Linked DNA regions of Homo sapiens: regions 2, 3, 4, 5, 6 and 7 are each linked to region 1. The links come from fine-mapping of genetic effects on gene expression. A gene starts in region 1. Each other region holds a variant in brackets. All regions are shown on one strand. Distances are from middle to middle.

The links. PIP is the estimated chance that this variant, and not a neighbour inherited with it, causes the effect.
Region 2: its variant is fine-mapped to the expression of RHOXF1-AS1 in cerebellar hemisphere (GTEx, PIP 0.96).
Region 3: its variant is fine-mapped to the expression of RHOXF1-AS1 in cerebellar hemisphere (GTEx, PIP above 0.99). The same link has a PIP of 0.9 or more in nucleus accumbens.
Region 4: its variant is fine-mapped to the expression of RHOXF1-AS1 in whole blood (TOPMed, PIP above 0.99). The same link has a PIP of 0.9 or more in amygdala, anterior cingulate cortex, caudate, cerebellar hemisphere, cerebellum and hippocampus.
Region 5: its variant is fine-mapped to the expression of RHOXF1-AS1 in thyroid (GTEx, PIP above 0.99). The same link has a PIP of 0.9 or more in tibial nerve and transverse colon.
Region 6: its variant is fine-mapped to the expression of RHOXF1-AS1 in hypothalamus (GTEx, PIP 0.97). The same link has a PIP of 0.9 or more in whole blood.
Region 7: its variant is fine-mapped to the expression of RHOXF1-AS1 in whole blood (TOPMed, PIP above 0.99).

The regions. Positions count from the first base shown.
Region 1 is chrX:120,034,552-120,038,754 of GRCh38, forward strand. RHOXF1-AS1 (RHOXF1 antisense RNA 1) reads left to right here and starts at 1,685. Exons shown (of 5, transcript NR_131238.1): 1 at 1,685-1,981.
Region 2 is chrX:119,500,269-119,504,471 of GRCh38, forward strand. No RefSeq gene overlaps it. Among named protein-coding and RNA genes, the nearest start is that of SLC25A5-AS1, 33 kb to the left of the region's middle. RefSeq lists an enhancer at 663-742 and a silencer at 3,198-3,492. The variant C/A (reference allele first, on the strand shown) is at 2,183.
Region 3 is chrX:120,262,567-120,266,769 of GRCh38, forward strand. All of the region lies in intron 8 of TMEM255A (transmembrane protein 255A), which reads right to left. Among named protein-coding and RNA genes, the nearest start is that of ZBTB33, 14 kb to the left of the region's middle. The variant A/AG (reference allele first, on the strand shown) is at 1,884.
Region 4 is chrX:119,944,204-119,948,406 of GRCh38, forward strand. No RefSeq gene overlaps it. Among named protein-coding and RNA genes, the nearest start is that of NKAP, 2.6 kb to the left of the region's middle. The variant A/G (reference allele first, on the strand shown) is at 2,343.
Region 5 is chrX:120,139,100-120,143,302 of GRCh38, forward strand. RHOXF1-AS1 (RHOXF1 antisense RNA 1) reads left to right here. Exons shown (of 5, transcript NR_131238.1): 3 at 1-20. Among named protein-coding and RNA genes, the nearest start is that of RHOXF2, 17 kb to the right of the region's middle. The variant C/T (reference allele first, on the strand shown) is at 2,106.
Region 6 is chrX:119,907,073-119,911,203 of GRCh38, forward strand. All of the region lies in intron 4 of AKAP14 (A-kinase anchoring protein 14), which reads left to right. Among named protein-coding and RNA genes, the nearest start is that of AKAP14, 13 kb to the left of the region's middle. The variant G/A (reference allele first, on the strand shown) is at 2,143.
Region 7 is chrX:120,100,403-120,104,605 of GRCh38, forward strand. All of the region lies in intron 1 of RHOXF1-AS1 (RHOXF1 antisense RNA 1), which reads left to right. Among named protein-coding and RNA genes, the nearest start is that of RHOXF1, 13 kb to the right of the region's middle. The variant G/A (reference allele first, on the strand shown) is at 2,060.

The DNA of each region.
Region 1 (4,203 bases):
ACATTGAGCTAAAGAGGATTGTTCCTAGGCCTTGAAATCTAATGGAATTAGCTATGCTAATTATTTATTTATTTACTTTTTTGAGATGAAATCTCATTCTGTCACGCAGGCTGGAGTGCAGTGGTACAATCTCAGCTCACTGCAACCTCCACCTGCCAGGTTCAAGCAATTCTCCTGCCTCAGCTTCCTGAGTAGCTGGGATGACAGGAACTCACCACAATGCCCCTCTAATTTTTGTATTTTAGTAGAGACGAGGAGGGGGGTTTCACCATGTTACCCAGGCTGGTCTCGAACTCCTGACCTCAAGTGATCCACTCACCTCAGCATCACAAAGTGCTGGGATTATAGGCGTGAGCCACCACACCTGGCCCTGCCATGCTAAATTTTGAACTTACTTGGGACAAGAAACCACTTTATGCCTCCCATATTCATTCTTTTGGAATGGTAATGTCTTGTAAAAGGAAAATAAATCTCAGGACTCCAAAATCATTAAGCCAAAGGGAAAAGTCAAGCTGGGAACTGCATCAGGCAAACCTACCTCCCATTTTATTCTTAAATAAGATAGCTACAAACAAAAAAAAAAGCTACATACATGTCTCACAATTTGTCCACTGGGACATTCCTTTTGAGCCCCAAGATGTTTACCTTAAAATGGTTCTGTTGAATTTTACCCTGACAATGTAAATTGATAGCTTATCTTCACAGGTTCTAGACAAAGAACAGAACTCAAAGTCATCCTTCTGTTCATCTGAGACAGATGCATATCTGATTGCTTTCCTAATGTAAAAATGCAGATTCACTGAGCTGACAAAGGCATAAGTAACTATTCCTCTACCCTTCTCTCACATGTAAACTGTGTATTCAGTGAAAGGTTTATCAAACACTCAAAATAATGCAACCATTTGTCTGTTATCTACCCACACCTTTAATTTTTTTTCCTTTTCCCCCAATATCTGCCCTTTTGCCTTTAAATACTGAAGTCCACAAAATCTTCTTTGGAAAAAGGCATAGACCTGCCTTCCAGATGCATGTTCTTAACCTTGGTAAAATAAAATTTCCAAGTTAATTGAGACCTAGCTCAGATACTTTTTGGTTTACAAATTGGTAACCACCAAGGGATTCTGAGTGGAGGTGCCCCTGACCTTTGACAAATCTTCTATTACTGCTTGGTACCAGCTTGAGATATCTTTATTGCTCAAATCAATAGGCAGATTTGCTGAGGCCTGGGAACTTCCCCCCTCCAGACAATCCCTTGTAGCAGGACGAGCTGCAGACAAAATCTTTCAGACACTGAGTTGTAGAAGGAAGGGCTTTATTCAGCTGGGAGCATCGGCAAGCTACTGTCTTAAAATCCGAGCTCCTCGAGTGCACAGTTTCTGTCCTTTTTAAGGGCTCATAACACTAAAGATTTCACATGAAAGGGTCGTGATTGATTGAGCAATCTAGGGGGTATGTGACAGGGGCTTCATGCACCGGTAGTCAGAGTGAAACAGAACAGAGCAGGGAGTTTCACAGCGTTCTTCCATACAATGTCTGGAATCTATGGATAACATCGGTTGCTAAGTCATGAGTTGATTTTTAACTACTAGGTTTAGGCCAGGCAGGCCCAGGCCTGGTTTCAGTTCTGGTTTTGGGTCTGGTGCCTGGCTGCCTGCCCTTGGTTTCACTTCCTTGTTTTTTTCTTAAAACAGGTACTGAGTATAAAACAATATAAAACAATATGAGAGGGTCCGTCTCTTCCCTCACCCTGATCTCCCCAAATTTGGTCGATATCTAAGGTTTTTTTTTGCTGTACAACTCCTTTTCTGGAGTTTTACTCACTTTCAACAAGGAAGGTGAGTTTTCCTGCTTCCATGATGATGGAGGGCAGGCAACTCCTTTCTGGAGTTTCAGCTCAATTCCAACAGGGAAGGCGAGTTGGAGTTTTTTTCCTGCTTATAGGCTGGTAGAGAGCAGTGTTGAGCCTGGACTCCATTCCTAGGTAAGTAGCTGAATTGGGGTTTTATCTTGAAAATTCTCCTTAATGACCTAAAGTTAAGATTAACAACCAGCAGCTCTTAATTTCTCCTTACCATTAGAGTGCTCAGGAATTGTATACATAGTATGATCATTTGTTTGTTTTGCCAAACTGTTTTTTCATTTATTTGTTTGTTTTGTTGTTTTGGTCTTTTTCCCATTGGATTTGACTAACTCTACCCAACTATATCAAATGTGAAGGAAAGTTACAAATGGTGAGGAACAACGCCTCTGCATTGGGTAAATTCCTGCAGCTGGGGGGGAAAAGGGAAAAGGATAAACAGCCATCAACAGGAAAAAAGAAAGATTTTGACTACCTGAGGGGCTTTATTTACATAACAAGGCCACCTTTTGCTAGCCAAGCCAAACTGTGCTCCACACTGCAGTTCTGTAGCTAAGGTTTTGCCCTTTTTTCCACCACAACAGCCTGGGTTTGGTTCCTAAATCAAGTTCTTTCTGGTTTGATATTTGTGTTATTTTTGAAATATCAGCAATTTGTTCCAGCTAAAATAGGGTAGTGAGATTTAGAAGAATTTTTTAAGAGCTTAGTGGCTAAAAGTCAGTTTAATTAAAAGCTAATATCCACGATGTGTGTGTGTGTGTGTATATTTAAAAGGCCTTTATGGTTTTTTGTTTTGTTTTGTTTGTTTGAGAAGGAGTTTCACTCTTGTTGCCCAGGCTGGAGTGCAATGGTGCGATCTTGGCTCACTGCAACCTCTACCTCCCGGGTTCAAGCAATTCTCCTGCCTCGGCCTCCCAAATAGCTGGGATTACAGGCATACGACACCACACCCAGTTAATTTTGTATTTTTAGTAGAGATGGGATTTCTCCATGTTGGTCAGGCTGGTCTCAAACTCCCGACAACCTCAGGTAATCTGCCTTCCTCAGCCTCCCAAAATGCTGGGATTACAGGCGTAAGCCACCGTGCCTGGCCTGTTTTTTTTTTCTCTCCTAGTACCTTGTTTTTTGAGAAAAAGGTTTTTTCCTTCTCAGTCAGTCAAATGAATTCTGTTTTCTCCATTTACTTCTGCCTATCTCTCCTTTCTCTTGTTCCCCTCTGCTGCATGAGGGACCCAAAATAGTTTCTAACAGCCTGTAATTCCTTAAATAAAACAGAGAAGGCACTAGAGTCCTTTTTGAGGAGAAACATCTGTTTTTCCTTATGGAACCCCAAGAGTCTAAACAGACAAGTTCCTCTCAGATCTTAAACTGCTTGCTTTTGTACTGTGTTACCTGATTTTTGGACTAAGTTATTACAACAGAGGCTACTCTTCGGGTGTTTAAGATAAGAAAAGGTATACTTTAGACACTTAGAGGAAAGTCTTTGTAACAAAGTGCAGTGCAAATGCATCACATGGTCTAGAATCATGATAATTCTATCTTTTGGAGATCCAGGATTCAGCGTGGGCTCTGCCCAGAGCTGAGATCCAGTTAAAAGCTAGAGACTAGGCTGGGCACAGTGGCTCATGCCTGTAATCCCAGCACTTTGGGAGGCCAAGGTGGGCAGATCACGAGGTCAGGAGTTCAAGACCAACCTGGCCAACATGGTAAAACCCCATCTCTACTAAAAATACAAAAATTAGCGGGGCATGGTGGCAAGTGCCTGTAATCCCAGACACTTGGGAGGCTGAGGGCATGCCCAGCCGATGCTACACTTTTAAACAGCCAGATGTCATGATTACTCACTATCATTAGAACAAAACTAGAGGGGAAATCTGCCCCTATGATCTAATCGCCTCTCACCAGGCCCCATCTCCAACACTGGGGACTACAATTTGATATGCCTTTGCAATATCAATTGCTGCATACCAAGTTCTCTCTGTTTTGGGCCTCTGTAATAGTCACAATGTCAGGTACTGCTGGTGCCAAAGGTGGTATTACGCATTGAGCTGCCTAAAATCAGTGGTAAGTCTCCAAGAAACCAAGGTCTTGTGCACAGGCCAGATGGGGCTATTGAATGGAGAAACAGTCTCATGAAACATTTTGGCTTCCTTAAGCTCAGCAATGATGGCAATTATTCTTTTTCTCCCCTAGGCAGCTGACATTGTTTTTTGGGAAACAACAGTACTAGGTGTTGGTCATCAGATGGGTCCATGGTCTTCTATATTTCTCACTAAGATGGCCATAACTATTGCAATTCCTGTCAGGGCTTGGAGGCAAAGGCAAGTGGGGCTGCACATGGAAAA
Region 2 (4,203 bases), 530 kb before region 1:
GATTGAGCCCAGGAAGTCAAGTTTCAGTGAGCCATGATCACGCCACTGCACTCCAGCCTGGGCAACAGAGCAAGACCCTGTCTCCAAAAAGCAAACACAGGACAAAAAACGAAAAGGGTGTAGGGGAAGGGGTTGACCTTGGAGGAAGTACCAGGATAGAGAAAAGATGGGCATTTTGCAGGCTGAGTAGAAGGATGCATGGTGGTCATCTTCTTAGCTCTGGTTATGTTTGAGCGACACATCATAGTACAGATACAAAGATGAATGAGGCACGGTGGGCTCTTCTCAAGAAGTCTGGTGGTGTCACATCCTGGAGAACTGGTTGCGGCAGTGTCCTGGAGATGTCAGAGGCGGCCACAGAAGGGCACGGGCTTCAATGTCACCTTGCAGGACTGGAGAGGGGTTGGTGCAAGCTATATCTTATAGGGGGCTGTCTCTCCAGCTGGCCTAGAGGATGGGGGTTAAGAAGAGACTTGAGTTTTGTAAGAGAAAAAGCCTCCCTCAGACTCTGAAGACGATCAGGATCCGCCCACCCAGAGGAAGAAATGCGTGGCTCTGTCAACTTTTCAGGTCATAGGTCTTGAGTGGGAGAATGGGAGCCCTTTTTCAACCCCACCCCCAAATTTCCTCTTGCCAGTTTCTTTCTCCCTCCTGGAAGGAAGCCTGGACACCACATTCTGGGAGATCATAACTCTCCCCCTGAGAGCTATTTGCTGGCTCTCCCCACAGAAAGACCTTGGGAGGGAAGCACAGTCACCTGTCATGGCAGGAGCTGGCAAGCTGAGACCTCTCCCTTCCACTGGCCCTGCCTTCTTCAGGGCCAGGCTTCCTCATGGGCTGTCCCTTCAGAACCCAGCCCACACCTTTTCAGGAAGCCACTCCCCACAAATCCCCTCTGGTCCTATGGACATGCGCATTACCCTTCTCTGGGCCTTCCCCTGACTTCCTCATTGGTGTCAATTTTTTTTTTTTTTTTTGAGACGGAGTGTTGCTCTTGTTGCCCAGCCTGGAGTGCAGTGGCGCGATCTCGGCTCACTGCAACCTCCACTTCCCAGGTTCAAGCAATTCTCCTGCCTCAGCCTCCTGAGTAGCTGGGATTACAGGCATGTGCCACAATGCCCAGCTAATTTTGTATTTTTAGTAGAGATGGGGTTTCACCATGTTGGTCAGACTGGTCTCAAACTCCTGACCTCAGGTATTCCGCCCGCTTTGGCCTCCCAAAGTGCTGGGATTACAGGCATGAGCCACCGCGCCCAGCCTCAAAACTTTCTTCTCAGTTCACATTCCTTCCTTTCTGCCAATGCCAGTAGGGTGAATCAGATAACCTAGAGTGGTGAGCTAGCTAATATGGCAGTGCTGTCCCCAGAAACTACTGGAATAAGGGGGAACATCAGGCACCTACAACCTGGAGAGAAAGACTTGTCAGGCAGGTCTGCTTCCTGCTGCCTTGGGCACTTCCTTCGGGACTGGTTTGTTGAGAGGGTTGAGAATGGATTGGAGGGGGGGGTGGGGATAGTGGGGGAACTAGAGGCAGGAAAGCTCATCAGGAGGCCTTGCTGCACTTCCACATAGATGGGGGCCTGACCTGAAGTAGTGACCGTGCATGGAGAGCGAGGTTGTTGAAGTGAAAACGTGAAGGCTAGAACAGGCCTGACTTGATGACTAGGCCTATGGGAGTGTGAGACGAGGGTGTGCCCAGATTTCCTGCTTGGCCAGGTAGGTGAGTGGCAGTGCCACTTATTGAGAAAGGGATCATCAGGCAGGACAAACTGTGAGTTTGAGGGGGAAGGAAAGGATGACAAGTTGTGTTGGGTAGATTCAATTTGAGTTGCCTATAGGATGTGTAAGTGGGGCTGTCCAGGAGGCACTTGGATGGGAGTGTGTGTGTTTCGAGCACAGAAGCAAAGTCTAGTCTGGAAACAAGAGTATTAATTTTCTCTCTCTCACTGTTTCTCTCTCCTTCACACACACACACACGTGTGCGCGCGCACACACACACACACGTGCAAACACCAGAACTTTCAAAGCTAGGTGCACTCACAGGGTCATTAAGCCCAGGACATGTTGACAAGGGTGTGGAGGTGTCATCCTCGGGGACATGCAGGGAGGGTTCCTGGACAGTGATTTTTACATCGCCTCCTTAATTGTCCATAACCATAACCATGATCCATAGCCATAAGGA[C/A]AATAGGAATTGTGGTCCCCCAGAGATTTTTTTCCTACTGAAACTCCATAGTCACACCTCTTTGCAGACTTTATGGCAGGCCTTCCCTTTTTTCCAAACCCCTGTGAATAGTGTCAGACAGCATCTGCGGGAGGATGTGTGTGAATGCTGGGATGCAGGGGGCATGGCAGGGAGTGGAGCACTTGTAATTCTGTTGATGTTGGAGCCCTCCCCTTTCAGAGTGCATTGAGTCCTTAGTGTGTGCCCCCTCGCCCCGATCAATTCCCAATCCCTGTGTTGCAGAGAGGGCAGCACCACCTTCTCAGCCGCACAGGATATTCTCAGGCTGATGCCAAGAGCAAATCACTCCCAGCCAGCACACTTCTGCCAGCCTTGGTAGGCACAGCGTGTAGCAGTGCGCATGTGGGTGGGGACAGAGGTGACTTTTCTCATAGACTGGGAGAAAAAAAAAGGCATCTGAACTTCCTGGTTACAGAACATCCGGCTAGTAGAAACCTTTGTGTGTTTGTACGTGTCGGGCAGGGGGGGATTAGTGAGGTTCCCCTCCCCTCTAGTGTTAGCAATAATGAAGGACACTCTTTGTACAAGACGTCAAGATGAGAGCTTCCACACAGGACTCCACACTGTGCTTCTGTTTCACCAGGAAGAAATCTTGAATGTCAGCCAGGCTTGTACTCATCAATTCATTCAGCCAGTCTCTGAGGGCTGGTCCTTCTACTGAGTGCTGGCTAGGGTGGGGCTGAGGACTGTGCCCCTGGAGAGCTGCCAGCCTAGGTGCAAACACAGAACCTTCATTCATGCAGTGACATCACAGCAGCCCATCACAACACTGCCCCAACTGCATCAGAGCAGTTGCACCTGATAGGTTTCCCAGGGGTTACCTGAGGAGCAAAGCCAAGTGCGTGTGGCCCAAAGTAGACAGCATATAGGGCCTGCACGCTGAGGACTGCCCCAAATGCTGGCCCAGCTTTTTCCACCAGGGAGGGTCAGATTCCAAAGCCGACAGCCACTCAGCACGAGGCCCAGACCCAAATTCCACTGCCAGCCACTTCTACTGCTGAAAAGGAAATAGGGCCGAAAATGTAGACTTCAAGGGCAAACACTGGATCACCCTTGGGAGTAGCTTCCAGAGCTCTGAGTAACATCCTGGAGGCAGAAGAGAAATGTTTGCCCTGCCCCCCAGCCCACAGTCTCCAGCATCACCAGCCTTTCTGGAAAGCCTTCCGAAGTCAATTTCAGCCCAGCCAGGAGCAGGGCCAAGTTGACAGAGGGCTGAGCCAGAGCTCCCCTGCACTCACACCTTGATCTTTCTCTTCCTCTTAGACTTGAGTGCTTGCCAGGTGTGCATTCCAGAGTCAATGCAAGTGTCCCTGGCTCTCTTCCACCCCTTCCCAGGCAAAAAGAGGCCACCCACCCATGGAAAAGCCACTGTTGTCAATCTGTCGCCAGAACTCTCGCTCAAGGTGGCAGTGAGGCTTTGGTGCCAGCTAGGGTTTGCTTTGGAATCCAGGAGCTCCCATCAAAGGCGGTGGGCTATGGGGTCCTGAATGAATGGCAAAGGGGCATGGGAGTAGGGATGAGGGTCATTCAGGACTTGGAAATATAGTTGGCCCCGGGTATGTGCTGGAGCTGGCTCCCTCTGGCCCATGAGAGCCAGATGCTATATTTTCAGAAGTTTTGTGAGTCAGTCATTAAGCATAGCACTTATTTTAAAATATATAAAATTACAATTAAATAAATTATATTAAAAACTAAGGTAATCAATGTCCCAAAACTCATCATCTCCTAATCATTTTACTTTTTTTTTTTTTTTTTGAGATGGAGTTTCGCTCTTGTTGCCAGGCTGAAGTGCAATGGCACGATCTCAGCTCACCGCAACCTCTGCCTCCCGGGTTCAAGCGATTCTCCTGCCTTAGCTTTCCAAGTAGCTGGGATTACAGGCATGTGCCACCACGCCCGGCTAATTTTTTGTAGTTTTAGTAGAGACGGGGTTTCTCCATGTTGGTCTGGCTGATCTCGAA
Region 3 (4,203 bases), 230 kb after region 1:
ATACCCTTTGTTAAAAACATCGGTATAGTGATTTCCTGATTTTCCATCTTGCACCCTTCAAACTCTCCCTTCCTCCTCCTCTCCCTCCCTCCTGTTCTGTTGCTTTCCTCAACTAAGAACTCTCTCCTCTTAACCAGAGAGGGGAACAAAGACCCACCAGGGCAAAGAATCTCTGTGCCTGGGCATATGGCACTCACTGCCTCTCTAAATCCCACTACAGAGATGACATGAGAGGCAGCAGGCCAGTTTTAGGTGTTCCCAGCCACAGAAGGGAGAGGCAAGTTTCCTGAAGTGAAGCTAAAGGCAGTTCTGTCCTGAGAGGCATTAAAAGGCTTCTGTGGGCAGCAGCTGCTGTGGGTGGCAGTTGTACACTTTGATAATAAAAGGGGGTGGTACAACGGCCCTTGGGTTTTCACTTCTTAGTTTTGTGTTTGAGAAGTATGGGGGGAGGGGGTCATGATTCTCACTTCCCTTTGAGGATGCTGGGAGTCTTAAGGATAAAGCTGAAGGGTTCCTGGCAGAGCTAGGGAGCTAACTGGCTGCAGTCCACACACCCTTGGGGTTTAGCGGGGGAAAAGGCCCATAGTACCAGTGCATAGTTTCCTAGCAACAGGCAGGCACCTTGGGAAAGATCTGGCTTTGTCGCAGCCAGGGAGTTGGCCTGGTGTATTCTGGTTCCTGCCTGAGAGTGTGACTTTAATAATGCTGTGGGCAGCTCAGGAGAACAGAACTTTGAATCCTTGTGCACCACCAAGCACGAAGAGCATCTAAATAGCCTACTGCTGGGCCTAGTCAGCTCCAGCTTCCTGAGCGGCTTCTTAGAGGCTGGGGTGGCCAACAGGCTGATGGTGCTTGAAGAGGAGCACCACCCTTTCAGGGACACAGATGGCTTTCCTCTTCCACCTTAGCCTGCCTCCTGCCTGCCTGATGGCTGACCCACACCCTTCAAGATCAATGCGCATTTCCGTCAGGGCATGCTTCTCTCCAGGAGCCTTGTGGGACAGTGACTTCACAAAGAGCCCAGGAACTGGCTGGTGATAATTACTAGTTAAAGACACTGTGTCCCAAGGGTAAAATCCCAGCATCTGTCGGTATTGTGCATTCCCTCTCTGTTCTGCCCCTGGAAGCAAAGGCTAGGGAGATGGAGAGAAGAGTGGGTAAAAGAAAGAGGAAAAAAAAAAGGATGAGTCAGGAACAAGGGAAAGGAGGGGACGAAAGGAAAGACTTGACAGCGGGGTGGCGGGCGGGTGGCGGGGGGAAGAAAAAGTTGAGTGATAGCAACAACAGCCTTCTAAGGCTCTCAGCAACCTGTGCCATAAACTGTACCCTCCTAGGATCAAAGCAATCCTTTTAATAAATGGGCCCAATTTATAATGAGTAACTTTTAGTGGCTAGGGTGAAACCTAGTGTACCCTCGTGATTAAATAAAGAGGAAAAATAGAGGCACTTTTGAATTGCATAGGTTGAGACTTTCGTTTTAAGCTTAAACTTGGCTGGTCACCAAATGGATAGGAAAGGGACCATTCCATGGTTAGAGTAAAGTAGGGGTACTGGCCCAGTATGCCAGACTGGGAAATATTGCTGGGAACCTTGAGGGGTTTATAAATAGCTGGGTTTAATTTCCCAGCAGAAGTGAAAACTGATGCTTTGTACCCTACAGATTTTGGACTACTTGGCTAAAGCTGAAGGGGTGGTGGGGAAATAGTGCAAAGGACAAGAGAAATGAGTGTTGGACAGATGAGCGAGGAGGCAAAGGTAGTCTCAGCTTATATCCTTCCTGCTTTGGAGTATGAGGAGTTCCTGAGAAGCAAGGACACCCTGGAGCCCAGTGTTTGAAAGAATCCAGTTTCTCTAAGCTCAGCACTCAAAACTTCCTCAGGGCC[A/AG]GCTGATCAGACCCAAATCCTTGCTCATGTCTGACCACAAGAAGTGTTTCCCAAGCTTCCTCACTGGACAGCTACCCAATAAGGGTATGACTTTGAGGGGTTAAAACAAAACATTATAAGTCTTTTTTCCTCATCCTCCTATTAGCCTCAGGGTCAAAAGGAAGTTGAAATCACCAAACCCAAAGTCACAGAAATAGTCCTACTTGGAAATAACCAAAATGGGAAGTCATTCAGAAGAAAGTCTAGAAAGGTCCATTTTCTGGCTGTAACTTAGGTCATTTTACAATCAGAAGAGCATGAGGGAGCTCTGGCCTTTTGGGGGTGGGTCTGTGCTTCAGGTGGTTTTATTGTCAGATCTGGAGTGCATTTGCTGACTCCTTTTTATTTATCTGGGAATATAAGCAGACGTTTCCTGCCCTCTTGACTTTCCTTTTTTTTTTTTTTTTATACAGCGCTTCTCTCTTGTTGCCCAGGCTGGAGTGCAATGGCGTGATCTCGGCTCACCACAACCTCCACCTCCTGGGTTCAAGTGATTCTCCTGCCTCAGCCTCCTGAGTAGCTGTGATTACAGGCATGCACCACCATGCCTAGCTAATTTTGTATTTTTAGTAGAGATGGGGTTTCTCCGTGTTGGTCAGGCTGGTCTCGAACTCCCGACCTCAGGTGATCGCCCGCCTTGGCCTCCCAAAATGCTGGGATTACAGGCGTGAGCCACCGCGCCTGGCTGACTTTCTTGTGTAAAGAATGGTATTTTCGCCTATGAAACTATAAGGGAATGAAACTTGGTGAGCAAAAGAAAGCTAAACTAAAATACTAAAATGAAACCATTTAAGTTCTAGAGAGAAATCACTTAAAATCTTACCCCCTCAAGACTTAGGCTATACAATTATAAAGTCTTCAAACAGGAAATACTAAAGACATCTTGAGCCTAGGGAAAGAAGTGGGAGACATATAAAAAGTGTCCAAGCAGCCCCTGAATTCCCCTCTGAGGAATGCATGAAGGAAGGGAATCCTTTTTCAGTGGGGATCAAGAGTAAAGAGACCCTTTCTGAGGACCATGAGTCCAGTAGAAAGTATAAATATCCAGTAGAAAGTATAAATATCCCAAAATTAACTGGGGAAAGAGCTGTGCTCCGCTTAGATTCACAACTTCAAAAATCCCCCAACCCAATCTCTGGAATCAGTCAGCCCTAGATATAAATCCTTACTCTTTCACTTACCACCTCTGTGACTTTGGTGAAGTCACTTAATCTCTCCATGATTCAGTCATCTTATCTTAAAAATGGCAATTGCAAGAGTACTTCTCTTAAAGAGGTAAATGATTGAATGATGATATATGTAAAGCACTTAGCACAATGCTTAGTACATAGTAAGTACTCAGTGAATAGTAGCTGTTATTAAAAAGTAAGGGTGGGCCAGGCACGGTGGCTCATGCCTGTAATCCCAGCACTTTGGGAGGCCGAGGCGGGTGAATCACGAGGTCAGGAGTTTGAGACCAGCCTGGCCAACATGGTGAAACCCTGTCTCTACAAAAGATACAAAAAAAAAAAAAAAAATAGCCGGGCATGGTGGCACGCACCTGTAATCCCAGCTACTCGGGAGGCTGAGGCAGGAGAATCGCTTGACCCCAGGAGGTGGAGGTTGCAGTGAGCCAAGATTGTGCCATTGCACTCCAGCCTGAGCGACAGGGCAAGACTCTGTCTCAAAAAAAAAAAAAAAGGAGAGGCTTCTAACAATCCCCAAAGTCTCTGCTACAAGCCCATAGTATAGGTTTGGACTAGGTAGCTAAATCTGGATCCCTTTTCTGGGTTAGGTATGCTGTTTCCATAGCATTCTGGGTAATGTTTTCTTTACTTTTTTGTCCCCACTACTGTCCCCTGACCCCCCACCCCCAAGTCCCTAGACTAACGCAGGGACTGTCTCATTTAATTTCTATTTCCACAGCTCCTGGCTCAATGCGTGGCACATGGAACACAGAGTAAACATTGATTGAACTGAAACCAACAATCCAAGTCACCGTTGGCATTCTCAATCTTGCTTTCATTTCTGGGGTAGGATTTGAATGAGGAATGATGGCTCCATACCCAAAAGAGAGGTTTCCTATCTTATAATTTGTGGTAACCATCACCAGATGTATTATTGTCCCTACTTAAAGGGTTCATTATAAAGTGCAAATTCCTGAAATCAATGTAATTTACTTTGATATAAAAGTAGAGGAGGCCTCTTGGGCTAGACCCATGTGTGGCTCCTCTATTTAAGGATGACTTTTTATTATAGGGACCCCAAGAGAATGATGACCTTCCTTGTTTTAGCTTCAACA
Region 4 (4,203 bases), 90 kb before region 1:
GACTCGCGCCTGATAAACTTCAATTAAGTTTCCCGCCTAGAGAAAAACTGCATACTTATCCCCTAGCCACCGTCTCCACCAATATGCCCCAGCAAAAGGAGGTTTTTTTTTTTTGAGACTGGAACTCACTCTGCTCACTCTGTCGCCCAGGATGGAGTACAGTGGCAAGATCTCAGCTCCCTGCAAACCTCCGCCTCCCCGGGCTCAAGCTATCCTCCCACCTCAGCCTCCTGAATAGCTGGGATTACAGGCGCATGCGACACCAAGCCTGGGTAGTTTTTTTTTTGAGGGGGGTCGGGGGAAACAGGGTTTCACCTTGTTGCCCAGGTGGTCTTGAACTCCTGGGCTCAAGCGATCCGCCAGCCTCGGCCTCCCAAAGTGCTAGGATTATAGGTGTGAGCCACTGCGTCTGGCTTGTATTTTTTTCCCCAAAAAGTGTCATTTTATTTTTTATTTTTTTATTTTTGAGACAAGGGCTCCCTCTGTCATCCAGGCTGGAGTGCAGTGGCTATCCTGGCTCACTGCAACCTCCGCCTCCCAGGTTCAAGTGATTCTCCTGCCTCAGCCTCCTGAGTAGCTGGGATTACAGACATGTGCCATCATGCACAGCTAATTTTTTATTATTTTTTAAATTTGTACAAATCTATGGGATACATGTGAAATTTTGTTACATGTATATAATGTGTAGTGATGACGTCAGGGTATTTAAGGTGTCCATTATCTGAGCACAATACATTTTTGTTAAGTGTACTCTCGGCCTGGTATGGTGGCTCACGTCTGTAATCCCAGCACTTTGGGAGGCAGAGGCGGGTGGATCACTTGAGGTCAGGAGTTTGAGACCAGCCTGGCCAACATGGCGAAACCCTGTCTCCACTAAAAATACAAAAATTAGCTGGGCCTGGTGGCACGTGCCTGTAATCTCAGCTACTAGGGTGGCTGAGGCACGAGAATCGCTTGAACCCGGGAGGCTGAGGTTGCAGTGAGCCGAGAGTGAGATTGCACCACTGCACTCCAGCCTGGGCAACAGAGTGAGACTGTGTTTCCAAAAAAAAATAGTGTACTCTCACTCTACCATGCTGTCAATATCAAACATTGAATTTGGGGCTGGGCATGGTGACTTACACCTGTAACTCCAGAAATTTGGGAGGCCGAGGCGGGCCAATCACTTGAGCCCAGGAGTTGGAGACCAGCCTGGGAAACATAGGGAGACCCTGTCTCTACAAAAAATTTAAAAATTTGGCGAGTGTGGTGGTGCATGCCAGCTACTCAGGAGACTGAGGTGGGAGGAACACTTACTTGAGCCCGGAAATCGAAGTTGCAGTGAGCCGTGATTGATCCACTGCACTCCATGGGCGACAGAGTGAGACACTGTCTTAAAACAACAACAAAAACCATTGAATTTATTTCTTCTATCTTACTGTATGTTTGTACCCTTTAACCTATTTCTCTTCATCCTTCTGCTTCCTCCCACATACCCTACCCAGCCTCTATTATCTATCCAGCAAAAGGAATTTGTAATCCCCTCTTTGTCCAGCTCCTTAAACTAGTCTCATTGTATGCCAGCCCAGCAATATAGAGTTAAGGATCAGTATTCCTATTCTTTTTTTTTTTTTTTTTTTTTTTTTACATGGAGTCTCGCTCTGTAAGCAGGCTGGAGTGCAGTGGCGTGATCTTGGCTCACTGCAATCTCTGCCTCTAGGGTTCAAGCTATTTTCCTGCCTCAGCCTCCTGAGTAGCTGGGATTACAGGGGCGTGCCACCATGCCCAGCTAATTTTTGTAGTTTTAGTAGAGACAGAGTTTCACCATGTTGGCCAGGATGGTCTTGATCTCTTGACCTTGTGATCCGCCCGCCTCAGCCTCTCAAAGTGCTGGGATTACAGGCGTGAGCCACCACGCCCAGCATTTCTATTCATTTTATACTGTTTTTCTTTTCTTTTTTCTTTTGTGAAACAGTGTCTGGCTCCCTCACCCAGACTGGAGTGCAGTGGTGTGATCTTGGCTCACTGCAACCTCCACCTCCTGAGTTCAAGGGATCCTCCCACCTCAGCCTCCTGAGTAGCTGGCATGTGCCATGGTTCGCTAATTTTTAAATTTTTTGTAGACATGGGGTTTTGCCATGTTGCCCAAGCTGGTCTTGAACTCATGGACTCAAGTGATCCTCACACCTCGGCATCTCAATGTGCTGTCATTACAGGCTTGAACCACTGCACCTAGGCCTCTACTGTTTTTAAATCAAAGGGCATTCCAACATTAATTCTACTGATTTCGACTTTTTTTTTTGAGACAGAGTCTTGCTCTGTTGCCCAGGCTGGAGTGCAGTGGCAGGATCTTGGCTCACTGC[A/G]ACCTCTGCCTCCTGGGTTCAAGCAGTCCTCATGCCTCAGCCTCCCAAGTAGCTGGGATTACAGGTGCCCACCACCATGCCCAGGTAATTTTTGTATTTTTGGTAGAGACTGGGTTTTACCCTGTAAGCCAGGCTGGTCTCAAACTCCTGACCTCCAATGATCTGCCGGCCTCCGCTTCCTAAAGTACTGGGATCACAGGCGTGAGCCTCCATGCACAGCCCTCAATTTGGATTTTTGAAGGTACATAGGTTTGCTGAAGAAATTCCAAGTCCAGCCTGCCAGTAGCATGATGGCCTCTGGGATTTTCCTAAGAAGTAATTTATCAGATCATGAAAATTAATGCCAATTGATTATCAGAAATCTCCTTTTTTTGGAATTTAAGGGAAAGACGTATGAAATAATGTTAAATGGAAAGAGTGGACCACACTATTGGATATCTTCTATGTATAACTAATTTGTCATGGGGCCAGGTCCAAAAACTTAATCGAGTAAGAGAAATTCTGTGATTTGGGATGGAGATTGGGGAGAATTTCTAATAAGAAAGTTTTCAATGGAAAACCTACTGCCTAACTTTTGCGACAACAGGCAGTACACCTTCACATCAGTTGCCTATAAAACCAACTCTGCAACAGTGATTGGTCTACCTGCCCCATGGCTGGTGGACATGTACTTTAGTTGGAAAGAGAAAACCCCTACTCCTGCACATCTGAATGGCATGGTGCTCTTCTTGCCAGGTATCCTGGGAGCAGCCTGTGTTTCATGAGTTGGCAGTGAGGGGGAGCTAGAGCACACAGGGAGGTGCAGACAGCCAGTGGGATCAGGCTTGCAGAGTTTGGGTCCTGCCACTGCACTCCAGCCTGGGCAACCTCTGCCTCCCAGGTTCAAGTGATTCTCCTGCCTCAGCCTCCCAAGTAGCTGGGACTTCAGGCATGCGCCACCATGCCCAGCTAATTTTTGTATTTTTAGTAGAGACAGGATTTCACTGTGTTGGCCAGGCTGGTCTTGAACTCCTGACCTCATGATCCGCCTGCCTCACCCTCCCAAAGTGCTGGGATTACAGGCATGAGCCACCGCGCCTGGCCTATTCTTCTTTAAATTTTTTTTTTTTGAGATGGGGGTCTCACTCTGTCACCCAGGCTAAAGTGCAGTGGCACTATCTTGGCTCACTGCAACCTCCGCCTCCTGGGTTCAAGCGATCTTCCCACCTCAGCCTCCCGAGTAGCGGGGACAACAGGCGCATACCACCATGCCTGGCTAAGTTTTGACATTTTTGGTAGAGACAAGGTTTCGCCATGTTGCCCAGGTGGGTCTGGAACCCCTGAGCTCAAGTGATCCGCCCACCTCGGCCTCCCAAAGTGCTGGGATCACAGGCGTGAGCCACCTCACCTGACCTGATCCATTCTCTACAGGAATTAAACCATTTGTGTGTTATGGGATATGGAGGTATTCAGCTTCCATTCACTACTCCTCTTCAAAGTCTGAGACTCTGCAGCTGTCTGGGCAGGTGCATGGCTAACACCCAGCGGACTGAGGCAGGGATCTGGGTTGTGGAAATGGAATTTAAGGAGTGGGTGTTAGGGGGACTCTTGTAGTTTGTGTCCATTTGAATTTGAGGATGCTTTCCAATTATGCCAACAATTGTTTTAGAGACTGCGAGATTAAAACAATGTTTTTAATCACTAACCTCTTTTGAAAGAATTTGCAGGATCAAAACCCGAACTACATAATTTCTAAAAAGAATTTTCTTTTAGAATACTTCTTAGTCAATACAGACCTGTGATCCCTGATAACTTAACTGGCGTGCTGGCTTTGTCAGTTCCTCTAACACCTCACTTATCTGCATTTCTTCTCTGATAATGA
Region 5 (4,203 bases), 100 kb after region 1:
CCGAGTAGCTGGGACTACAGGTGCGTGCCACCATGCCTGGCTAATTTTTTGTATTTTTAGTAGAGATGGGGTTTCACTGTGTTAGCCAGGATGGTCTCAGTCTCCTGACCTCATGATCTACCTGCCTTGGCCTCCCAAAGTGTTGGGATTACAGGCATGAGCCACCGTGCCCGGCCTGGTGTTTTATTTTTATATGATATAGTGAAGCTAAATACATCTGGTTCTGTTAATGAACATGAAAAATTATACAATGAGGAAGCATATTCCTCTAGAAATTGTGAAACTGTGTGTTCATAAATTTGCTAATCTGCTACAGAACACTAGTATATGACAGTGCTATAGACTCAATGTTTGTGTCCCCGCCAAATTCATACGTTGAAATCCTAACCCCTAATGTGATTGTATTAGAAAGTGGGGCCTTTGGTAGGTTATTAGGTCATGAGGGTAGAGTCTTCACAAATGGGATTAGTGTCCTTAAGCATTCTCTGCCTGTTTCTATTATGTAAATACATGTAAAGCCCTGATAAATTTCCCCAAATGTCATTGTTACAAACCTATTTATATCTTTACTACAGAGCATATCGTGGGAAAATTTTTTATTTGAAATCACACGGTTAAGAGTTCAGAATTGGTTAGAAGAGTAGGGAATGGCTTACGCTAATATATCTACAATGACGTATTTGTGTTCCTGTAGTGTTAAGGATAGGAAGACAATGGATATTCAACAGCAGCAACAATAATATCAACAATTAATCTAAAGAAACTTACAAGAAAATATGACTAAATATTTACCCACTTTTGGCATTTGAGTTTTGCTTTCAATTATTTAAACTGGATTTCCTGAAGTATTTAATTTGAAATGTGAATATCTGCTCTCTTCAAGTGATACCTTTTTCCTTTGCTGTTTTTAATGTGTTTTCTGTAGCTGTAATAAACCATAAACAGGTGTCTGACAGCTTTTCTGAGTCCAGAAGCACAGAATGCTCTATGAAAGACCATGATCCATTCTCTCTCCTATCAACATGTTTTTGTTTGTTCTGTACCCCATTTGTTTTGTCTAGGAGCAAACACACAGAGATCTTAAGCCTATTAAAGTTGTGTTTTGGCTTAGTTTCGGTACACATATCCTTTTAATACAGCAGTTATTAAAAATTATTTTAGGCAATTAGAAAGGGTAAAGAGTTCTTGGTGGAATTTTCCATTAATAAAAAGCAGCCCCCAAACCATTTCTTTTCTAACAGAAAGCAGCCTGAAACTTCAAGCTGCAAGCATAGCTATGCAAGCTAGCTTTCATATGTAAATGCCATCAGCTGTACCTGGAAGCCAGGTACATTCAATATGGCGATTCTCGCTCCCTTTTCTTTGTGGCCACGTGTGCGGGTGTCATGGCACTAGCCAGGTAAAGTCACATGTGCAGGTGTCATGGTGACAGTCAGATAGAAGCCATAATTGCATAATAAAAGATTAGGGTTGGAGGGCCAGTCTTTTCATGGACTGTGTAAATGGAGCACCTGGTCAAACCAATCCCCTGGGCTCTATGTAAATCAATCACCGCCTCCTCAAGCCTTTGTACAAAATTGATCACGTTCTGCACCTAACCCAGAAACCCTCTCTCAGGTGACCCGCTTTCTCAGCATGAGGAAGCTTATTCTATCTCTCTTCCTTTTTGTCTGTTAAACTTTCTGCTCCTTAACCCACTCCACGTGTGTGTCCATGTTGTTAATCATCGGCGCGAGACAACTAACTACAGGTATTGCCCCAGAGGAAGTGGTTTCACTTTGAATGGTTTGGCACTATTGTCAAATATCATACTTGTTATAAGTCTTTGCAGATTTTCTATTTATTCTTGAGTCAGTTTTGGTAGTTTGTGTGTTTGTAGGAATTGTTTTTCAATGTATTAGGGCATCTAATTTGTTGAAATACAATGTTCATAGTATTTTCTTATAATCCTTTTTATTTCTGTCAAATCAGTGGTAACATCCCCTCTTCTTTTTCTAAAAAAATAATTTCAGCTTTTATTTTTGATTCAGGGGATACATGTGCAGGTTTGTTACATGAGTATATTGCATGATGTTGAGGTTTGAGATCTGAATGGTCCTGTCATC[C/T]GGATGGGATACTAGTGAACATAGTACCCAACAGTTAGTTTTTCAACCCTTGCCCCCTTCCCTACCTCCCCCCATCAGTCCCTAGTGCCTATTATTGCCATCTTTATGTCCATGAGTACCCAATGTTTAGCTACCACTATAAGTGAGTACATGCAGTATTTGGTGTTCTGTTCCTATGTTAATTAACTTAGGATAATGGCCTCCAGCTGCATCCTTGTTGCTGCAAAGGACATGATTTCATTCTTTTTATGTCTGCACGGTATGCCACGGTGTATGTGTGCCACATTTTCTTTATCCAGTCCACCATTGATAGGCACCTAGGTTGATTCCATGTCTTCACTACAGTGAATATTGCTGTGATGAATATATGAGTGAATGTGTCTTTTTGGTAGAACAGTTTATTTTCTTTTGGATGTATGCCAGTAATGGGATTGCTGGGTCAAATGATAATTCTGTTTTAAGTTCTTTGAGAATTCTCCAAATTGCTCTCCAAAGTGGCTGAACTAATTGACATTTCCACCAACAGTGTGTAAGTGTCCTTTCTTCTGCAGCCTCACCAGCATCTGTTGTTTTTTGATTTATTAATAATAGCTATTCTGATGGGTGTGAGATGGTATCTCATTGTGGTTTTGATTTGCATTTCTCTGATGATTAGTGATATTGAACATTTTTTCAAATGTTTGTTGGCCACTTGTATGTCTCCTTTTGAAAAGTGTCTGTTCATGTGTTTTTTGCCTGCTTTTTAATGGAGTTACTTGTTTTTTATTTCTTGAATTGTTTCCTTATAGATTCTGGATAGTAGGCCTTTGTTGGATGCATAGTTTGTGAATATTTTCTCCCATTCTGTGGGTTGTCTATTTACTCTGTTTATAGCTTCTTTTGCTATGCAAAAGTGCTTTAGTTTACTTGGGTCCCAATTGTCAATTTTTGTTTTTGTTGCAATTGCTTTTGAGGACTTACTCACAAACTCTTTCTTGAGGCTGATGTCCAGAATGGTGTTTCCTAGATTTTCTAGGGTTCTTATAGTTTGATATCTTACATTTAAATCTTTAACCCATCTTCAGTTAATTTTTGTATATGATAAAATGTTTGTATATGATAACCCATCTTCAGATAATTTTTGTATATGATATGTAGGGGCCCAGTTTCATTCTTCTGCATATAGCTAGTTAGCTATCTCAGCACCATTTACTGAATAGGGAGTCCTTTCCCCATTGCTTATTTTTGTCAAGTTTGTAAGAGATCAAATGGCCATAGGTGTGCAGCTTTATTTCTGGGCTCTCTATTCTTTTCCATTGGTCTATGTGTCTGGTTTTTTTTTTTTTTTTTTTTTTTTTTTACCAGTATTATCCCCTCTTTCATTTCTTATTTTAGTTTTTGATATTCCCTCTTTTGTTAGTCTGGCTAAAAGTTTGTCAACTTTGTTGATCTTTCAGAGAACCACATTTTGGATCTGCTGATAGTTTATATTGCTTTCCTATTCTCTATTTTGTTTGTCTCCATTCTTTATTATTTCCTTCCTTCTGCTAGCTTTGGTCTAGTTTCCTCTCCTTTGCTAGTTTCTAAATGTGTAAGTTCGATTATTGATTTTGCACATTTCTTCTTTTTTAATGTAGGTGTTTTTAGGTATAGATTTTCCTCTGAGCATTGTTTTTGCTGCATTTCATAGGTTTTGGGAGTTTGTGTCTTCATTTTAATGCATCTCTAAGTATTTTCTAGTTTCCCTGGTGATATCTTCTTCAATCCATTTGTTGTTTAACAGCATATTATTTATTTCCGCATATTTGTGAATTTCCCAGTTTCCCTTCTGCTATTGGTTTCTAATTTCATTTCATGATTGTGAAAAGTAAAGTAGAGGTTCCTCTTCAAAGACTTTCCTCCCCATCTAATTAGGAAGAAATAGTAACTTCTCTTAGAAGCAAAATTTATTCAAAGACCTGGGCTAACATTCTTAAATATCTGTGAGCTGTAATAAAGAAATCAATGTACTTTATGTTCTTAGCTTCCACAATTTAGCCTAAATATTTGCCCTGGCATGCTTATACTGGTCCAAGCAAGCATTAGGATAGCCTGTTCCTTTTCCTTATTTGAAGGTGTT
Region 6 (4,131 bases), 130 kb before region 1:
GCCCAACCTCTCTCTGATTGAGCAGCAAAACAAAGTTATGATCATATGTCTGTCTGATTTTTTTTTTTTTTTTGTGGGACAGGGCATTGCTCTGTCACCCAGGGCTGCAGTGCAGTGGCACCATCTTGGCTCACTGCAACCTCTGCCTCCTGGGTTCAAGGGATTCTCCTGCCTCAGGCTCCCGAGTAGATGGGACTACAGGTGCATGCTACCATGCCTGGCTAATTTTTGCATTTTTAGTAGAGATGGGGTTTCACCATGTTGGCCAGTCTGGTCTCAAACTCCTGACCTCAAGTGATCTGCCCACCTCAGCCTCCCAAAGTGCTGGGATTACAAGCGTGAGCCACTGTGCCTGGCCTGATACATTCTTTTTAAAAAATATTTATTTATTTATTTATTTATTGAGACAGAGTCTTGCTCTGTCGCCCAAGCTGGAGTGCAGTGGCGCAATCTCGGCTCACTGCAGCCTCAAACTCCTGGGCTCAAGTGATCCTCCTGCCTCAGCCTCCTGAGTAGCTAGGACTATGGGTACACAGCACCATGGCCGAGTAAATTTTTTATTTTTTTGTAGAGATGAGGTCTCACTTTGTTGCTCAGGCTGGTCTTGAACTCCTGGCCTCAAGTGGTCCTCCTGCCTCGGCCTCCTAAAGTGCTGGGATTACTGCCAGCCACTGGCAGTGGCCACTGCACCCGGTGTGAGCCACTGCACCCAGTCAGTTCTATCTGATATATTCTTTCCACCACAGTAGGAAAAGTATTTTTTTTTCTTATTTGTTTTTTCTCATCAGCTTCTACTGACCCAGGAAAAGTACTTTTGGATGACAAAAATAATGCAGACTTTTATTATCATTTAAAAATACAAATTCAAATGATTTTAAGGTACTACAATGTGAATACGAATAATTAAACCTGGTATCAGAAGGCTGGTACAGGCTGGGCGCGGTGGCTCACGCCTGTAATCCCAGCACTTTGGGAGGGCGAGGCGGGCGGATCACTTGAGGTCTGGAGTTTGAGAACAGCCTGGTCAACATGGTGAAACCCTGTCTCTACAAAAATACAAAAAAATTAACTGGGTGTGGTAGTGTGTGCCTGTAATCCCAGCTGCTTGGGAGGCTGAGGCAGGAGAATCACTTGAACCTGGGAGGCGGAGGTTGCAGTGAGCTGAGATCGCACCACTGCACTCCAGCCTGGGCAACAGAGTGAGACTCTGTCAAAAAAAAAAAAAAAAAAGAAGGATGGTATAGGATGGTATAGTTGTGGGGAGGGAACACTTACACATTGCCAATGGCAAAGTTGGTTCATTCTCTTCAGGAACACAGTCTGGCAACAGGAATATACAAATGGGTTCCTTATAAAAGAAAAATCAGAGAATGCCCATCACCTCAGACAGTTAAAATTACTTTTATAATAAAAAAAAGACATCACTATAAAAAATGCCCAGTGAGCAAAAAGATACAAATTAGAAAATGAAATTACCCAAAATACCCGTTTCTATTACCCCAAAGGTCACTTAACCATGGATAACAGTTTTGTGCATATACTTTTTCATTGTTTTTTGCCTTGTGCATATACTTCTATGTGTCTGTTGATTGTGAGTGTCCAGTAGTATGTAGTTGGCTAAGCCATCCATGATCAAGTAGTACAGTGAGATACTGTTTCCTGGAAGTGAGTATATGAAGCAGTATCATGTAAAAATCACAAAACACACTCACTGCTGATACATAAAAGTCTGCTGCCTGCACACGGATAAAAATGGGAGGAGATTCGCCTGATGAAAATAGTTAAATTTAATGTCATGTGTAAGGCTGCCTTCATTCACAAAAGGGAGGAAAAATCCACTAAGAGCCAAGCTGAGAAGAAGAAACTCTTAGAACTGAGGCTTCTAGTGGGGTGGAGAAAGCACTGAGCGGGCTGCTCAGGAGTCCTGGGTACCAGTCCCAGTTTATTGTGTTAGACTGTCCCTACCTACTTCTAGGCCCTGGTATCCTCATCTGCAAAGTGAAGGGCTGCATTAGATTATCTCTAGTGACCTATTCAATGTTATAAAGTCTGTGATTGTGTGACAGATTAAACATTAGGGCTAGAAAAGTATATTGAGTAATATAGAACAGTTGAAAAAAAAGGCATGCTCTGGCTGGGTGC[G/A]GTGGCTCATGCCTGTAATCCCAACACTTTGGAAGGCCGAGGCAGGTGGATCACCTGTGGCCAGGAGTTTGAGACCAGCCTGGCCAACATGGTGAAACTCCGTCTCTACTATATGTGCTGCCGAAGCGAGCACAGAAACTCCATCTCTACTAAAAATACAAAAATTAGCCAAATGTGGTGGTGCACACCTGTAATGCCAGCTACTCGGGAGGCTGAGGCAGAAGAATCACTTGAACTCGGGAGGCGGAGGTTGCAGTGAGCCGAGAAAACGCCACTGTACTCAAGCCTGGGTGACGGAGCAAGACTTCATCTCAAAAACATAAAAAAAAAAAAAAAGAGGCATGCTCCAATGAGCCATAAGGGGTTGACTGTTGGGCCCCTTCATTAAAAGGAGTAATGATTTTGGGGCCAGGCGTGGTGGCTCGTGCCTATAATCCCAGCACTTTGGGAGGCCGAGGCATGTGGATTACCTGAGGTCAGGAGTTCAAGACCAGCCTGGATCTCTACTAAAAATACAAAAATTAGCTGGGCGTGGTGGTGAGCACCTGTAATCCCAGCTACTCAGGAGGCTGAGGAAGGAGAATCGCTTGAACCCAGGAGGCGGAGGTTGCAGTGTGCCGAGATCACGTCACTGCACTCCAGCCTGGAAGACAGAGAGGGACTCCGTCTCAAAAAAAAAAAAAGGAAGGAATAATGACTTTGGGAGGCCGAGGCCAGTGGATCACTTGAGCCTAGGAGTTTGAGACCAGCCTGGGCAATATAGGGAGACTGTCATCTCTACAAAAAATATAAAAATTAGCCAGGTGTGGTGGTGCATGCCTGTATGTAGTCTCAGCTACTTGGGAGGCTGAGGCGGGAGGGTCACTTAAGCCCGGGAAGGTTGAGGCTACAATGAGCCATGATCGTGCCACTGCACTCCAGCCTAGGTGACAGAGTAAGACCCTGTCTCAGAAAAAAGGAATAATGATACATGAAAGAATACACAGCTCCTGATCTCAAGGAATCTCGAGTCCAGTGCTCTTCTCTGGACTGAAACAGCCAATTGGGTACAAGTTTGAAATAAGCTGAGGCAAAAGGCCAGCCTACATTTTTTTTAAAGGAGGGCCTGAAATCTTTTTGATGTCTCCTGTACTCCCTCTCCACATTACTGGGACTTGTTAGACTCTCCCAATTCCTTCCTTCTGTGAACCTTCATCTTAATTCAGGCTCTTCTTTGATTCAGAAGCTTCTGGTGCCCTGAGAGCCAGCCCAAGGAAGTTCAGTTGAATTGAATTTGTTGAATACCTGTGAAATCTAAGGCCCTGTGCCAGGAATCAGGGATGCATTTTGACTTCTGTGGGCCCTAGGCACTCTTCCCTTTGTATCCCCCTTTCTCCTTCAAAAGATGAAAAAATTCAAGACAGCACTGGTATAAAGATGAATATAATCATGACCCTAAAATTCATATATTCTTCTTCTTTTTTTTGAGGCAGAGTTTTGCTTTTGTTGCCCAGGCTGGTGTGCAATGGCGCAATCTCGTCTCACCACAATCTCCGCCTCCCGGGTTCAAACGATTCTCCTGCCTCAGCCTCCCAAGTAGCTGGGATTACAGGCATGCACCACCACGCTGGGCTAATTTTGTATTTTTAGTAGAGACTGGATTACTCCACGTTGGTCAGGCTGGTCTCGAACTCCCGACCTCAGGTGATCCGCCCTCCTCGGCCTCCCAAAGTGCTGGGATTACAGGCGTGAGCCACTGTGCCCGGCCTTTTTCTTCTAATTTTAAAAGAAATGAACACATTTTTTTTGTGGGCCCTAGGTATTGAGCTTACTATGCCTTACAGATAAGTCAGCCCTGTTAGAAATGTTTTAATATTGGCCGGGCATGGTGGCTCACGCCTGTAATCCCAACAGTTTGGGAGGCCAAGGTGGGCAGATCACGTGAGGTCAGGAGTTCAAGATCAGCCTGACCAACATGGTGAAACCCTGTCTCTACTAAAAATACAAAAA
Region 7 (4,203 bases), 66 kb after region 1:
AAAAGGAACTTGTTTGTATAATGCTATTCTATACAAGGTATGTAGACCAGGAAGTGACCAGCCTGATGTGTGCTATAACCCATCCTTTTTCCTACTGCCCATAAAAACAGGCGAACTTCTAGGCTTCCCAGTCTATGCTTCCCAAGAAAAGAGAAGCATAGCTATAGGCGACTGGAAAGATGACAAGTGGCCCCCTGAAAGAATCATACAGTACTATGGGCCTACCACTTAGGCACAAGATGGCTCATGGGGATACCCAACCCCCATTTATACTATCAACCGAATCATACGGTTATAAGCTGTCTGAGAAGTAATCACTAATAAAACTGGCAGAGCTTTAACTGTTTTAGCCCAGCAAAAACCCAGATGAGAAATGCTATCTATCAAAATAGACTAGTCCTAGACTACTTGCTAGCAGCTGAAGGAGGAGTCTGTGGAAAATTTTACCTAACCAATTGCTGTTTGCACATAAATGATCAAGGGCAAGTAGTTGAAGACAAAAAGATATGACAAAACTGGCACATGTGCCCATGCAAGTATGGCATGGACTTAATCCTGGAGCCATGTTTGGAAAATGGTTTCTAGGGCTAAGAGCATTTAAAACTCTTATAATAAAAATTATAATAGCAATAAGAACCTGCTTACTACTCCCTTGTTTGCTACCTGTACTCCTACAAGTAATAAAAAGCTTCACCGCTACCTTAGTTCACCAAAATGCTTCAGCACAGGTGTACTATATAAATCACTATTGATCTGTCTTGCAAGAAGACATGGGTAGTGAGGATGAAAGTGAGAACTCCCACTAATGAGTGAGGTTCTCAAAGGGGGGAATAAGGGAGGAGACCACCCCTCATATTGTCATATGCCCAATTTCTGCCTCAAAGAAAAAGTAGGAGTTAAAAGACAGAAGTGAAATCAGTAGTCAGACAGCCCAGCACTGCATTCCAGGCCTGGTAGTTAAAGATCGACCCCTGACCTAATTGGTTATGTTGTCTATAGATTCCAGACATTGTATGGAAAAACATTGTGAAAATCCCTGTCCTGTTCTGTTCTGTTCTGATTACTGGTGCATGCAGCCCCCAGTCACATATCCCCTGCTTGCTCAATCGAACACGACCCTCTCATGTGGACCCCCTTAGAGTTGTAAGCCCTTAAAAGGGACAGGAATTGCTCACTCAGGGAGTTCGGTTTTTGAGACATGAGTCTGCCGACACTGCTGGCCAAATAAAGCTCCTTCCGTCTTTAACCTGGTGCCTGAGGAGTTTTGTCTGTGGATCGTCCTGCTACATTTCATGTCATTAGGACCTTCTGAGACTGTGTCATGGGTGCATCCTTAACTTTGGTAAAATAAACTTTCTAAATTGATTGGAACCTGTCTCAGATACTTTTGGTTCACAAGTTGGTAACCAGGAATGGCTTCTGAGTGGAGGTTCCCCTAACCTTTGACAAATCTCCTATTGGTGCTTGGTACCAGTTTGAGCTATCTTTATTGTTCAAACCAATAGGACAATTTGTGAAGTCCTGGGAGCTCCCCCTTCAGAGAATCCATGATCTCCTCAAATTTGGCTGAGATCTAAGGTTTATTTTGTTGTACAACTCCTTTTCTGGAGTTTTACACAAGGAAGGTGAATTGTCCTGCTTCATGTTGATGGAGAGCAGGCAACTCCTTTTTGGAGTGTGAGCTCACTTCCAACAGGGAAGGTGAGTTGAAGTTGTTTCCTGCTTCTAGGATGGTAGAGAGCCATCTTCAGACTGGGCTCCATTCCTAGGTAAGTAACTGAATTGGGATTTTGTCTTGGAAATTCTCCTTAATGACTAAAGTTAAAATTAACAACCAGCTGCTCTTAATTTCTACTTACCTTTAGAGTGCTCAGTAATTGTATAAGTTGTGCAATTTTTTGTTTGTTTTGCTTAACTATTTTTGTTTGTTTCTATTTTTGTTCTTCTTTTGGTCTTTTTTCCATTGGATTTGATAAACTCTATCAGACTTAGTCAAATCTGAAGGAAATTTCCAAATTATGGGGAACAATGCCACTGAATTAGCTAAATTCCCACAGCT[G/A]GGGAAAAAAAGGAAAAAGAAAAAATGACCAGCAAAGGGGAAAAAGAGGAAAGATTTTAACTACTGAGGGGTTTTACTTACATAACAAGGCCACTTTTTGCTAGCCAAGCCAAACTGAAAGAGCAACAGCTGTTGTCCCATGGTGCAGTTCAGTAGCTATGGTTCTGCCCTTTTTTCCCACCACAACACCCTGGGTTTGGTTCCTAAATCAAGTCCTTTCAGGTTTCATATTTATGTTACTGTTGAAGTATGAGCAATTTGTCTCAGTTAAAATATGGCAATGAGATTTAAAAGGATTTTTCTTTGAGATGGAGTCTTGCTCTGTTGCCCAGGCTGGAGTACAGTGGCACATTCTCGGCTTACTGCAACCTGCCTGCTGGGTTCATGCAATTCTCCTGCCTTAGCCTCCTGAGTAGCTGGGATTACAGGCATGTGCCACCACACCAGGCTAATTTTTGTATTTTTAGTAGAGACAGGGTTTCACCATGTTGGCCAGGCTGGTCTCAAACTCCTGACCTCAAGTGACCCACCCACCTTGGCCTCCCAGTGCTGGGATTACAGGTGTGAGGCACCACACCCGGCTTAAAAGGATTTTTTTTTTTGGAAGAGCTCAATGGCTATGAATCTGCTTAATTAAAAAGCTAATATTGAAGATTTTGGGTGTGTGTGTGTGTGTGTGTGTGTGTGTGTGTATGTGTGTGTGTGTGTCCACTTAAAAGGCCTTTATGGTTTTTTTTCCTAGAACTTCATTTTTTTTGTAGAAAAAGTTTTGTTTTTCTCAGTTGACTGAATTCTGTTTTCTCCATTTTTCTTCCTGTCTCTCCTTCCTTTTGCCCCTCTCTGCTGCATGAGGGACCTAAAATGGTTTTTAACAGCCTGAGATTCCTTAAAGAAAACAGAGAAGGTGCCAGACTCCATTTTGGGGAGAAACCTCTGTTTTTCCGTATGGAACCTTAAGAGTATAAACAGACAAGTTCTTCTCAAATCTTAAATAGCTTGCTTTTGTATTGTTACCTGATTTTGTTTTGACTAAAGTAGTTATTACAACAGTGGCTATTCTTGGGTGTTTAAAATCAGAAAGAGTATAGTTTAGACACTAAGAGAAATGTCTTCACAAAGAAAGTGCATTATAAAAGCATCACATGTTCTAGGCTCATGAAAATTTCTCTTTTGGAGATTCAGAATTCAGTGTGGGCTCTGCCTCAGACCTCAGAGATCCAGTTAAATAGTAAGAGACTAAATTTAAAACTACCTATATTGATAAAATTGGTCCCCTTATACAATCCTATGATAGATTTTTACAATTTTATGTTTGATTTGGCATCTGTTTTTAATCTCCCTCTAGAATACCAGACTCTTTTTCTCTTTACTTTGGGCAGTATGGCCATTTTCACAATATTGATTCTTCCTATCCATGAGCATGGAATGTTTTTTTTCCATTTGTTTGTGTCTTCTCTTATTTCCTTGAACAGTGGTTTGTAGTTCTCGTTGAAGAGGTCCTTCACATCCCTTGTTAGCTGTATTCCTAGGTATTTTGTTGGGAAAACTGGCTAGCCATATGCAGAAAACTGAAACTGCTTCCTTACACTTTATACAAAAATTAACTCAAGATGGATCAAAGACTTAAATGTAAGACTGAAAACCATAAAAACCCTAGAAGAAAACCTAGGAAATACCATTCAGGACATAGGCATGGGCAAAGACTTCATGTCTAAAACACCAAAAGTAATGGCAACAAAAGCCAAAATTGACAAATGGGATCTAATTAAACTAAAGAGCTTCTGCACAGCAAAAGAAACTATCATCAGAGTGAACAGGCAACCTACAGAACGGGAGAAAATTTTTGCAATCTACCCATCTGACCAAGGGCTAATATCCAGAATCTACAAGGAACTTAAATAAATTTACAAGAAAAAAAAAACAACCCCATCAAAAAGTGGTTGAAGGATATGAGCAGACACTTCTCAAAAGAAGACATTTATGCAGCCAACAAACATATGACAAAAAGCTCATCATCACTTGCCATTAGAGAAATGCAAATCAAAGCCACAATGAGATAACTTCTCATGCCAGTTAGAATGGCGATCATTAAAAAGTCAGGAAACAACAGATGCTGGAGAGGATGTGGAGAAATAGGAATGCTT